Regions from separate parts of the Homo sapiens genome. Here region 1 is linked to region 2. Evidence: fine-mapped expression QTL. A gene starts in region 2. The other region holds a variant in brackets. All regions are shown on one strand. Distances are between the middles of the regions. Region 1 overlaps TXNDC11 (thioredoxin domain containing 11). Region 2 holds the start of TXNDC11 (thioredoxin domain containing 11).

Region 1 (5,381 bases), 41 kb before region 2:
GAAGATTTAAATTGACTCATAACAGAGACTAACCACTGCTTGTGTTTTTAAAAATAATGGTATCCCAGTATTATTTCATTTGATAAAAGGAATTCTACTGCTACACAAACCAACCAACCTTAATCACTACCAAATCGAAGCAGAAACCTGATATATTTTTCCATCTCATAGTCCTACCTTTCTTTCCCCATCTACTTTTAATTTCTTTCTCAGTACCCTTTACTATAAATAAATATATGTAGGCTGTGTAACATGCTAAAAATGAAGGATGTAGGAAAATGACAGATAGCAAAAGCAGATGATGTCAAAGCAGCTTAGGCAGAGGCACAAGGAGCGTAGGTGGGCAGCAGAGAAACAACCACAGCAGTGATTGTCAAGGTGGGACGATGGGAGTTTGAAAAACCATACTCAAACTACACTCAAACATTTCCATTCGGAAAACACAAAAATACATTTGACTTTTGGAATATAAACTGCAAGAAGTAAAGCACAGCATCTGGGCTACGAGAGATATGCAGAAGCCAGGGCGACTGGCAAGCAAGGGGGCACCCCTGGAGTGGGCCCAACAGCCCCTCCGAAGGCACAAGACTTAGACATTGTGCCAAGGGGGGCGCAGGTTTTAAAGGCTGGGTACACTGGGTGCAGGGAAATTGATCTGTATATGACCTGTAAGTTACTGACAGTGATGCGAGAGAGACAGAATACTTCAGGAAAGTCAACTCAGTGATGTGACTTAGGAAGCAGCAACAGAGTAGACGCATAGGACTGAGCAGGACACAGGTCAATGCTCAGAAGCAGCTGAGTTCAGGCTGCTCCACAGAAAGCAAATGAAATCGGGGAACAAAGGCGACAATGGAAAACTGACGCTCTCTGGGATGAGAAGCCATCAACTTCTCACTGTGACTTGACAAGAACTTCAAAAATCCATTACATCAGCTAAGGAGAAAAGCATGTCACATTACTACTCATCATAAAAGAAACAGATAAACACAGAACATCACTCAGTGGAAGCCTAGCTTCTGAAAACACGGGCTCAGAGTAACAATTCTTCAAGAGAGTAACTCTGCAATTTTATCCAAGAAGAAAAACTTTAAAGTCTGTACCAAAATCTAAGAATACAAATAAAGAATTTCTATACATTAATTTCAAGAGCCCTCTAATGCATGGGTTCTTAACCTGGAGCCTGGGCTCTAGGGTGGGGCTGTAAGAACTCTCCATCCATATATAAAATCATATGCGCTTTTCTAGAGAGTGTCCATAGATTTTAACCAATTCTCAAAGGAGTCTGTGACCTAAACAAGGTTAAGAACCACTGCGCTAACATAAACGTGATTTCAAAATACTTACAAGTGATGTGTTGAAATGTCTATGTAAATACACACTTCCAGAGTGTACTAAGGATACCAGTTTCGCAAGATGTTTATTTGTGATAACCCCAAATCGTACTGTTCCTAGGTAATCTGAAACAGAAAATTTTCCTTTATTAAAGAAAAGGCCTGTGCCTTAAAACAACCACAAAACCCAGTGATCAAGTCTTGAAGCACAAACCCCTGCAGCTAAGCTCCTTCTGGTAACCTAGCCTAGAGAGGGAAGGAAGAGGCGCTGAGGAACCTCTCCTCCTGAAACCGACCTCGGCCCCTCAGATGTCAAGCCTGCTTCTGAGAGGATGTCTCTGACTAACGTCTCTGACAATCACTTGTGCTGAGGAGTCCCCTGTGTCCACCTATGATGGTCTGACCTGTCCCCATTGATGACAGGCTGAGGCACATGCTGTTCTCTTTGTCTGGACACTTCTTGTGGCTGGTTCCTTGTCATTACTCATCTCAGCTCCTACTTTCTGTGAGAAGCCTTCCTTGACCACCCCACCTAACAGCTAATATTTAGGGGAGAGAGTTTACAAAGGGAAACTGGGCTCCTGACCCATTCAGGTACTCCCTTTACCAATTACCCTATTTTTTATAGCACTTATTAACATTTGCATAATCTCATTCATTTATTTAGATTTCCTTTGGCCCAATGTCCTCTTTTTTTTTTTTTTTTTTTTTTTTTTGAGATGGAGTCTCGCTCTGTGGCCCAGGTTGGAGTGCAGTGGTGCGATATCGGCTCACTACAACCTCCGTCTCATGGGCTCAAGCAATTCTCCTGCTTCAGCCTCCCAAGTAGCTGCAATTACAGGCGTGTGCCACCACACCCAGCTAATTTTTGTATTTTTAGTAGAGACGGGGTTTCACCATGTTGGCCAGGGCAGTCTCGAACTCCTGACCTCAAGTGATGTGCCTGCCTCTGCCTCCCAAAGTGCCAGAATTACAGGTGTGAGCCACCACACTCGGCCCAATTTCCTCTTCTGACTGTAATTTCTGTGAAATTAGAGACTTTGTTTCATGCTAGTATCCCAGCACCTACAGAAGTGCCGGGGTGTATAGTTAAGAGGTCAAAAAATATTTATTAAATGAACAAATCTAGCATATATAAAGACTTATACAAATCAACAAGGAAAATTGTTAACATGGACAAACCACAGAAAAGGAAATATGTATACATGGCTAATAATTACTGGAAATAAACTCAACCTCACTATCCCAAAAGGAAGCAAATTAAAACAAAAGACTACTTTTGAC[C/A]CTCAAATTGCCAAGAATTTAAGACAAAGGAAACATCAAGTATTGATGAAAGTAAAGAAATGAGTATTTGATGTGATGCTGGTGGAAAAAGGCAAAACGGCACAGCCACTCAGGAAAGCAGCTGCTGTACCGACTACAAGAATGGACACAGCTGGGATTTCCACTGCTAAGCATCCACATGTTTGTTAGGAGTCACATGCAAGGATATTCACCAAGAAACATTCTGCAAATGTTAAAAACAATGAGGCAGGACTATACACCACAAACAGAGGCTGAAAGAGTAGACTTTTGATGTTAACAAAAAAAAAAAAAGAACTCACACTTATAAAAGTTATGTGTGTGTATGTGTGTGTGTGTATGTATGTATGTGTATATATATATATATATATATGTTTTTTCCCCTACAGGCACATATGTTTAGAAATGTATAAAGAATCTAAAAGGATAATGAAAGTGGTTTGATGTTGGAGAACGAACATCAACAGGGACCTTATCCTTATGTGTGAAGCTTTCATTTTTTTTCATGGAGTATAATATTTGTGTGATTATAAAGTATTTAGTGTTAAAGGAGGGTGAATAAGATACTGCAGAAAAAGGTACATTCTTTCCTATCCCCTTTTTGCTTTATTAGCACATGCTAAATAAAACATCAGTTAAACTACAGGCCAGGCGCAGGGGCTCATGCTCTTAATCCTAGCACTTTGGGAGGCCGAGGTGGGTGGATTGCCTGAGCTCAGAAGTTCAAGACCAGCCTGGCCAACATGGTGAAACCCTGTCTCTACTAAAAATATAAAAATTATCCGGGTGTGTTGTGGTGGGCACCTGTAATCCCAGCTACTTGGGAGGCTGAGGCATGAGAATCACTTGAACCCAGGAGGCAGAGGTTGCCGCGAGCTGAGATCCCAAGATCGTGCCACTGCACTCTAGCCTGGGCAACAGAGTGAGACTCTGCCTCCAAAGTAAATAAATAAATTTTTTTTTAAAAAACAGTTAAACATCAAATATTACCAAATTATACACAAGTAGCTAAGATATAAAAATATTGAGGTGTTAAACCCATAAAGTTTCCAGTTTTATCCCATGACCCCATCTTTCAGTGGTGTGGTCCTCTCTCCCTCAGGTAAGGAGTGGCCGACAAGGATGAGGTCGGAGTGAGTATGTCCCTACTGCCAGAGTCAATAATTTTTCATACAAATCTGATGAGTGTAAAATGGCACAAAACAAAAGAAATACAGGACAAATAAGCCAGGCTGGGGAAAGGGGACTGGAAACGGGAAGGCAGGGCTGAGGAGGCCTGGCACTGAGTAGGCCTTTTTGTATCTGACTCCTAGGGCCACAGTGATGTATCACACACCCTTCACACACTCCAAAATTAAACAATTAGTTAAAACCAAGCGAGATGTGGCAAACCCAACGTGGAATACAGCACGTACAAATAACCCTAACTATTGCAAACGGGTAACACCATGGTGAATGGGACAGGAAGAAAGAACCTAAGTAACTGGAAAACAGTATCTTGACTGGATGCTGTAAAACTAAAGGCAAAAAGAACTGTACATAAATGCTGTAAATCTAGGTAGTAAATGTGTTTCTTAAAGAGGTATAAGTTAGCAATTCTGAAACTATGAACTTATTTACTTCTTTGTGGTAAGTACATTATACATAATTACAGCCAGGACTCTCACTGTTGCAGTAAGAAGTTATATATTAATAAGAGAAGGCTAAAATAAACCCTGTGATGTTAAATTGAAATCAGAGAGAATGAGTATAAACTTAAGGCTTTTGATACACACACACACACACACACACACACACACACACAGAGGGAGAGAGAGGGGATGGATAGAGAAATACAGATATATGCACATGTGTGGGTATAATACACTTCCTAGTTCTATCTACTGAGAAGACCTAGAAGTAATGACATCCTAATACCAAAGAGCATACCTAGCACGTAGATCTTGGTTTCTAAATGCCATTCTCCAGTAAAAGAAACCAGGGCCCTTGGAGAAGAGGTTGATTCCAGAGCTGGGGTGAAGAAAGTACAAGATAAGCCTGAAATATCTTGTATCAGAAGTAAAGAAGTGGGCTGGGCATGGTGGCTCACGCCTGTAATCCCAGCACTTTGGGAGGCCAAGGCGGGTGGATCACCTGAGGTCATGAGTTTGAGACCAGCCTGGCCAACATAGTGAAACCCCATCTCTACTAAAAATACAAGAATTAGCCGGATGTGGTGGCACGCACCTGTAATTCCAGCTATCTGGGAGGCTGAGGCAGCAGAATTGCTTGAACCCGGGAGGTGCAGGTTGCAGTGAGCCGAGATTTTGCCATTGCACTCCAGCCTGGGTGACAAGAGTGAAACTCCGTCTCAAAAAAAATAAATGAAGTAAAGAAGTGCTCATAAAAGGATGGGGGTTTGTCCAAAGGACCCAGGAGCCAAGCTGAAGCCCTCCTAGTAGCCAAAGTTGGAACAATTTGAGCAACAAAATAAACAATGACAGTACACAGAATAAGATAAATACCCATGACTCCATAATAATATTAATGAGAACAGTCAGCTCTTCTTTAAGGGAGAATTCCACTAATAATGAAAAAAGAATGAAAGAAACAGAAAATAACCATTTGAACACCAGAGTAATTGTTGCAGGCAAGATCCACTGATGGAGGCTAAAATTCATGAGCAGAAGTTTGAGGATATATTTACATAGTGTCAAATGATCTTCCCCCAAGGTATTTATTTATTAATTACAAAGGAAGAGATAG
Region 2 (5,381 bases):
AAGATGACCCTAAAAAAATTAATCCGAGTCTATTAAAAGACTGTCAAATTTGCCAGTGACACAGAAAGAAGATGAAGCAGCAGCCATTTACTGGTTCATTCTCCTTGCCTGAAGCAAGAAAGGATCTCATTCTGCCTACTCTAGTAACTGGATTTACTCTCTTCCTTCCTTTTCAATCTCAAAGGACTTCTGTATCAATTAAGCCATGCTGTCTCAGAACAAACATTAACCATTATTTCTAGACTTTAACAAACCGATGTAAATAAACTTCACCCCTGGAGGGGGAAACCTCTCTTCCTAATTTGAACCTAAATGTCACCTCGCAACACTCTACCTTGTAAAATACTTTGTATACTGTCCTTGTGGGAGACAAGAATAAAGTACAAGGTTAAGAATCTAGGAGGTCCTGACAATAAAGGATTCAAATTCCAGCTCAGCCCCTTATCACGTAGGTGTGATTTGGAGCAGGTTCTGAAACATCACGAAGGCTGGACTCCTTCATCTGTGCACTGGGAAAGATAACAGTATATTCAAACTTTAATGGGGATTGTAAGATTTAAATGACACCCATACTAGGCTCTCAATTATGTACTAAATGAATAAATGCTTCATGGAAACAGTGGTTCCCAAGCAGGCAATTTTGCTCCCAGGGGACATCTAACAATGTCTGAAGCCATTGTAGTTGTTACATCTTGTGGGGTGTGCTACTGGTATCTAGTGGGTAGAGGCCGGGGATGCTGCTAGACATCCTACAGTAGTCAGGGCAGCCCCCACAACACAGAATTATCTGACCCAAAATATCAACAGTGCCAAGACGGAGAAACCCTGCTGACAGTACCTGGCCTATGGAAAATGCTCACTGAGAGTTATTATAATTTATCTTTCCACTAAAATCCCCGATCTTTTGACACCTCTTTGACAACTGGCCACATATCGTGCTAAATAAACTCAAAAATGTTCCGAGGTGAAATCACAGATATCATAGTAGCAATACAGATCTTATAAACTGGAATCCCAAAAGACCCACTGTGGATTTGGGAGACCAGAAGTACACCTGAAATATACAGCAAATTTTGTATGTGTGTACATTCCTGAAAAGACACACATGAACTTTCATGTTCCTACCCCCTACACCCCAGCCTACTGTCAGGCCTTTTTATCAATTCCAGGGAAACACCAAGCTTGCCCAGCCTCAGAAACTCTGCATTTGCTGTTCGCTCTACCGTGGACACGCTCCCCCGGGATCTTCCCAGCGCTGGTCCCTTCTCCTTTTTGTATAAGCTTCAAATGTCACTTCCTTAGGAAGTCTTTCCCCACCGCCATCGTTTCTATGCCCTGCATAGCACTGAAGCTTTAAAAAATTATATTTACTTGTTCACTGTCCCATCCACTCAAGGGAGCAAAAAGTTCACCCGGACGAGCGTCCGGCACATAGTAGGTGCAGATAAATAATCGTTAGATCAGGCCGGGTGCGGGGCTCTCGCCTGTAATCCCAGCACTTTGGGAGGCCGAGACGGGTGGATCACGTGAGGTCAGGAGTTCGAGACCAGCCTGGCCAACGTGGTGAAACTCTGTCTCTACTAAAAATACAAAAATTAGCCAGGCGTGGTGGCGCGCGCCTGTAATCCGAGCTACTCAGGAGCTGAGGCAGAAGAACCCCTTGAACCCGGGAGGCGGAGGTTTCAGTGAGCCGAGATCGCGCCACTGCACTCCTGCCTGGGACACAATGCGTGACTCCGTCTCAAAATAAAAATAATCGTTAGATCAATGAGTGCGGGAATTCTAAAAGGGGTCTGGAACTCTCGCAAGGTTGTGGATCACTACACCTGAAGCTTAAGGGGAATGAAATCGGTGAGAAATGAGGGTCCTACAGCCCGGGCCGAAGTGACAGGTCCACCCCTAGTGACTCCAACAGGTGAGGAGCACCCCCGACCCGCCTCCCTCGGCACTAAAGCGGGACGATAGGGCGCAGGGCTCCACCCGGAAGCCTCGCCATAATGTCCGCGGGCGGGCCGGGGCGAGGAGAAGGTGGGAAGCCGTGGCCGCAGGTTCCGGGAGGGGTCAGCCGTCCTGGGCAAGGTCAGGCCCGACTTCCCCGGCTGAGGCCGCTGCGACCCGGCCCTGCAGGCTCCAGGCGGCAGAGCAAGGGGAGCGCCCTAGCGGGGCCCCAGGGTCCGGGCCGCCTCACCTGCAGGTGAACTTGAGGGCGAGGAGCAGCGCGCAGCCGAGCGCCACGGCCCCGCAGAGCAGCTCCGGCCGCTGGCGCGCCATGAGGAAGGCGCCACGCAGCCCGCGACGGAGCCGGCCCGCCGAGGACGCTGTGGCCAGGGTCGGGCTCGAGCTGAGGCAGTCTGAGCCCGCGGGGCCGCCGCCGCCCCCTCCCTCGTCCTCGGCGTCCTCGCTGCTGCTGCTGCCGCCGCCGCGGCCTCCGCATTCCGACATTACATGCTCCCAGTCGCCGGCTTTATACCGCCGCCGCCGCCTCGGGCCCGAAGGCCCGGCCCGGCCCGTTGCTCCCCAATCCCGCAGCTCGCCGCACCCGCTAACCCGGACGCTCCACGTCAGCCGCGCCGCCGCCGCGGGGTCCGCCCCACCTCACACCCCAGAGCACGCAGCTCCGCCCACCGCTCACGGAGTCCGGGCGGGCACCGACACCGCCCAAATCCCCGCCCCCAACGGGCCACGCCCTGCACCCTACGTAAATGCACGGAAGCCTTCCCCGCCCGCAGCCCAGTCTTGGCCCCACCGGTCACGACCCCGCTCACGGAGTCTGCGCAGGCGCCGTCGCGGGGCGTGGAGAAGCTGCTCCCTTGGGATAAGGCCCGCGGGGAATACTTGGAACCTTGACACCGCTGTAGTCTGCTCTCGCCGCGCTGGGTTTTAGGAGCCGTAACGACAATAATCGTGTCCACCATTCTCACTACAGGCCCCGAAGCACGTAGGTGCCGTTTTTTATCCCAACTTAACTGAAGAAAAAAAAAACACGGCCGGGCGCGGTGGCTCAAGCCTGTAATCCCAGCACGTTGGGAGGCCAAGGCGGGCAGATTACATGAGACCAGGCGTTCAAGACCAGCCTGGCCAACATGGTGAAACCTCGTCTCTACTAAAAATACAAATATATTAGCCGGGCGTGGTGGCGGGCGCCTGTAATCCTAGCTGCTTGGGAGGCTGAGGCAGAGAATTGCTTGAACCCTGGAGGCGGAGGTTGCAGTGAGTGGAGATGGCGCCACTGCACTCCCGTCTGGGGGAGAGAGAGAGAGAGACTCTTGTCTCAAAAAAAAAAAAAGGACTTGTCCTCCAATGTCAATAACAACAAACTAGACAAATAAAACTTCGAGGGCATTAAGGCAATATGGTGTTATGCCACAAACAGAAGGCACAGCTAACGGCCAGTAGCTGAGACGCCACCTCTGCCACAGGTCAGCTATGTGACCCACGTGCAAATCTCATCACTTCCTGTCTGGTTCTGCTTCTGTGGATGTAGAATGGGGCAATCAATGGCTGTCTTGCTCAATTGGCCAGACATTTAATGTGTCAACCACCCAGGCCCAACATGTTGTGAGTTCATGTACACCGACCATTTTGCTATTTCTTTTCTATATGTCACTTTTTTTTTTTTTTTGGTTGTTTTTTGATACAGGGTCTTGTGTCACCCAGGCTGGAGTGCAATGGCGCAATCATAGCACACTGAAGCCTTGACAACCCCAGCTCAAGCGATCCACCCCCGTCAGCCTCCCAAGTAGTAGGCAACACAGATGTGTGCGACTACGCCCAGCTAATTTTTTTTTTTTGTGGAGACAAGGTCTCTCCATGTTGCCTAGGCTGGTCTTGAACTCCTGGGCTCAAGCGATCTTCCCCCTTCGACCTCCCAAAGCGTTAGGATTATGTAAAAGCATGAGTCACTGCGCCCACCTGTCACATCTTTTTGTTTCTTCTATACTGCCTTATTTTGTAGAAAGTAGCTATTTTCTCGTATAACATTAATTCCTTTATTTTTAACTTGTCCCTCATCTCTGTTTTGTGTTATTATTACCCTTATTATCTATGTTACAAACCCAACCATACAGTGTTAATCTTGTTTTAAAAAGCTGAGAAAAAATATATAGTTACAGAGTTTTTTTAACCTTCTAATTTGCCACTTATACTTCTGTTGATTCCTTTGTGTAGATTAGAGTTACACAATTTATTGCTAAAGAAAATAAATATGGTCAAAAGTCACCAGTGTCCTCATTCACTGTAGCTTGCTGCAACAGAATTTACCCTACACTTCCATAAGACATCTGACATTTGCACAGGGCTTCATAAGGTCCAAAGTACTTTCGTTGTCTGTGGTTTAATCTCACAAAACCCATAGTCCTTTGTGAGCAAATGCAAGGCAGTGTCTTACTGACCAGAAAACCACCCTGGATTAACAAAAGAATGCCTCCTTTCCTCTTCACTTTCTGAGCAACTGGGGCCCTGCTCTGGCAGCAGAATGTTCTCTTTTTTATTTTTTGTAGAGATGGGATCTCACTGTGCTGCCCAGGCTGGTCTTGAACTCCTGGCCTCAAGTGATCCTCCTGCTCTGGACTCCGAGAGTCCTGGGATCACAAGTCTGAGCCACTGCAGCTGGCCCAGAACGTTCTTCTGAAACAATTATAAATTTGTTTCAAAATACACTAGGCCTTTCGGGTCAGGCTGTACTACTTTTCATAGGTTAGGTCAGCCCTAACTCGTCCACACCAACTTGTATCTGAGTTTTCCATAGCCACTTTTTTTTTTTTTTTTCTTTGAGATGGAGTCTCACTCTATCGCCCAGGCTGGAGTGCAGTGGCACCAGGTCGGCTCACTGCAACCTCCGTCTCTTGGATTCAAGCAATTCTCCTGCCTCAGCCTCCCAAGTAGCTGGGATTACAGGTGCCCACCACCACGCCTGGCTAATTTTTATATTTTTAGTAGAGATAGGGTTTCACCATGTTGGCCAGGCTGGTCTCAAACTCCTGACCTAAGGTGATCCACCCGCCTCGGCCTCCCAAAGTGCTAGGACTACAGGCATGAGCCACCACGCCCAGCCTCTTGGCCACTTTTTATACCAAGATCAAGTTGCTCGGGGTTTGAGGAGGGAATGGGGCAGAGGAATATATATGTGTCATGTGCTGTGACAGTGGTCCCAGAAAATTATGATACTGTTTTTATTGTACTGTTTCTTTTCTTTGACAGAGTCTTGCCCTGTCACCCAGGCTGGAGTGCAGTGGCACCATCTTGGCTCACTACAACCTCCACCTCCTGGGTTCAAACAATTCTCATGCCTCTGCCTCCCAAGTAGTTGGGATTACAGGCGTGTGCCACCATGTCTGGCTAATTTTTGTATTTTTTGTAGTGATGGGGTTTTCCCATGGTGG

What was found. PIP is the estimated chance that this variant, and not a neighbour inherited with it, causes the effect. A credible set is the group of variants that fine-mapping cannot tell apart.
Region 1: its variant is the best candidate, but not a certain one, in a credible set for the expression of TXNDC11 in whole blood (TOPMed, PIP 0.88).

The regions. Positions count from the first base shown.
Region 1 is chr16:11,699,105-11,704,485 of GRCh38, forward strand. TXNDC11 (thioredoxin domain containing 11) reads right to left here. Exons shown (of 12, transcript NM_015914.7): 6 at 1,348-1,460. Among named protein-coding and RNA genes, the nearest start is that of SNN, 33 kb to the left of the region's middle. The variant C/A (reference allele first, on the strand shown) is at 2,619.
Region 2 is chr16:11,740,289-11,745,669 of GRCh38, forward strand. It overlaps TXNDC11 (thioredoxin domain containing 11), which reads right to left and starts at 2,569. Exons shown (of 12, transcript NM_015914.7): 1 at 2,189-2,569. The coding sequence starts at 2,442. TXNDC11-AS1 (TXNDC11 antisense RNA 1) reads left to right here and starts at 2,726. Exons shown (of 1, transcript NR_186412.1): 1 at 2,726-4,218. RefSeq lists silencers at 2,017-2,686, 2,549-3,071.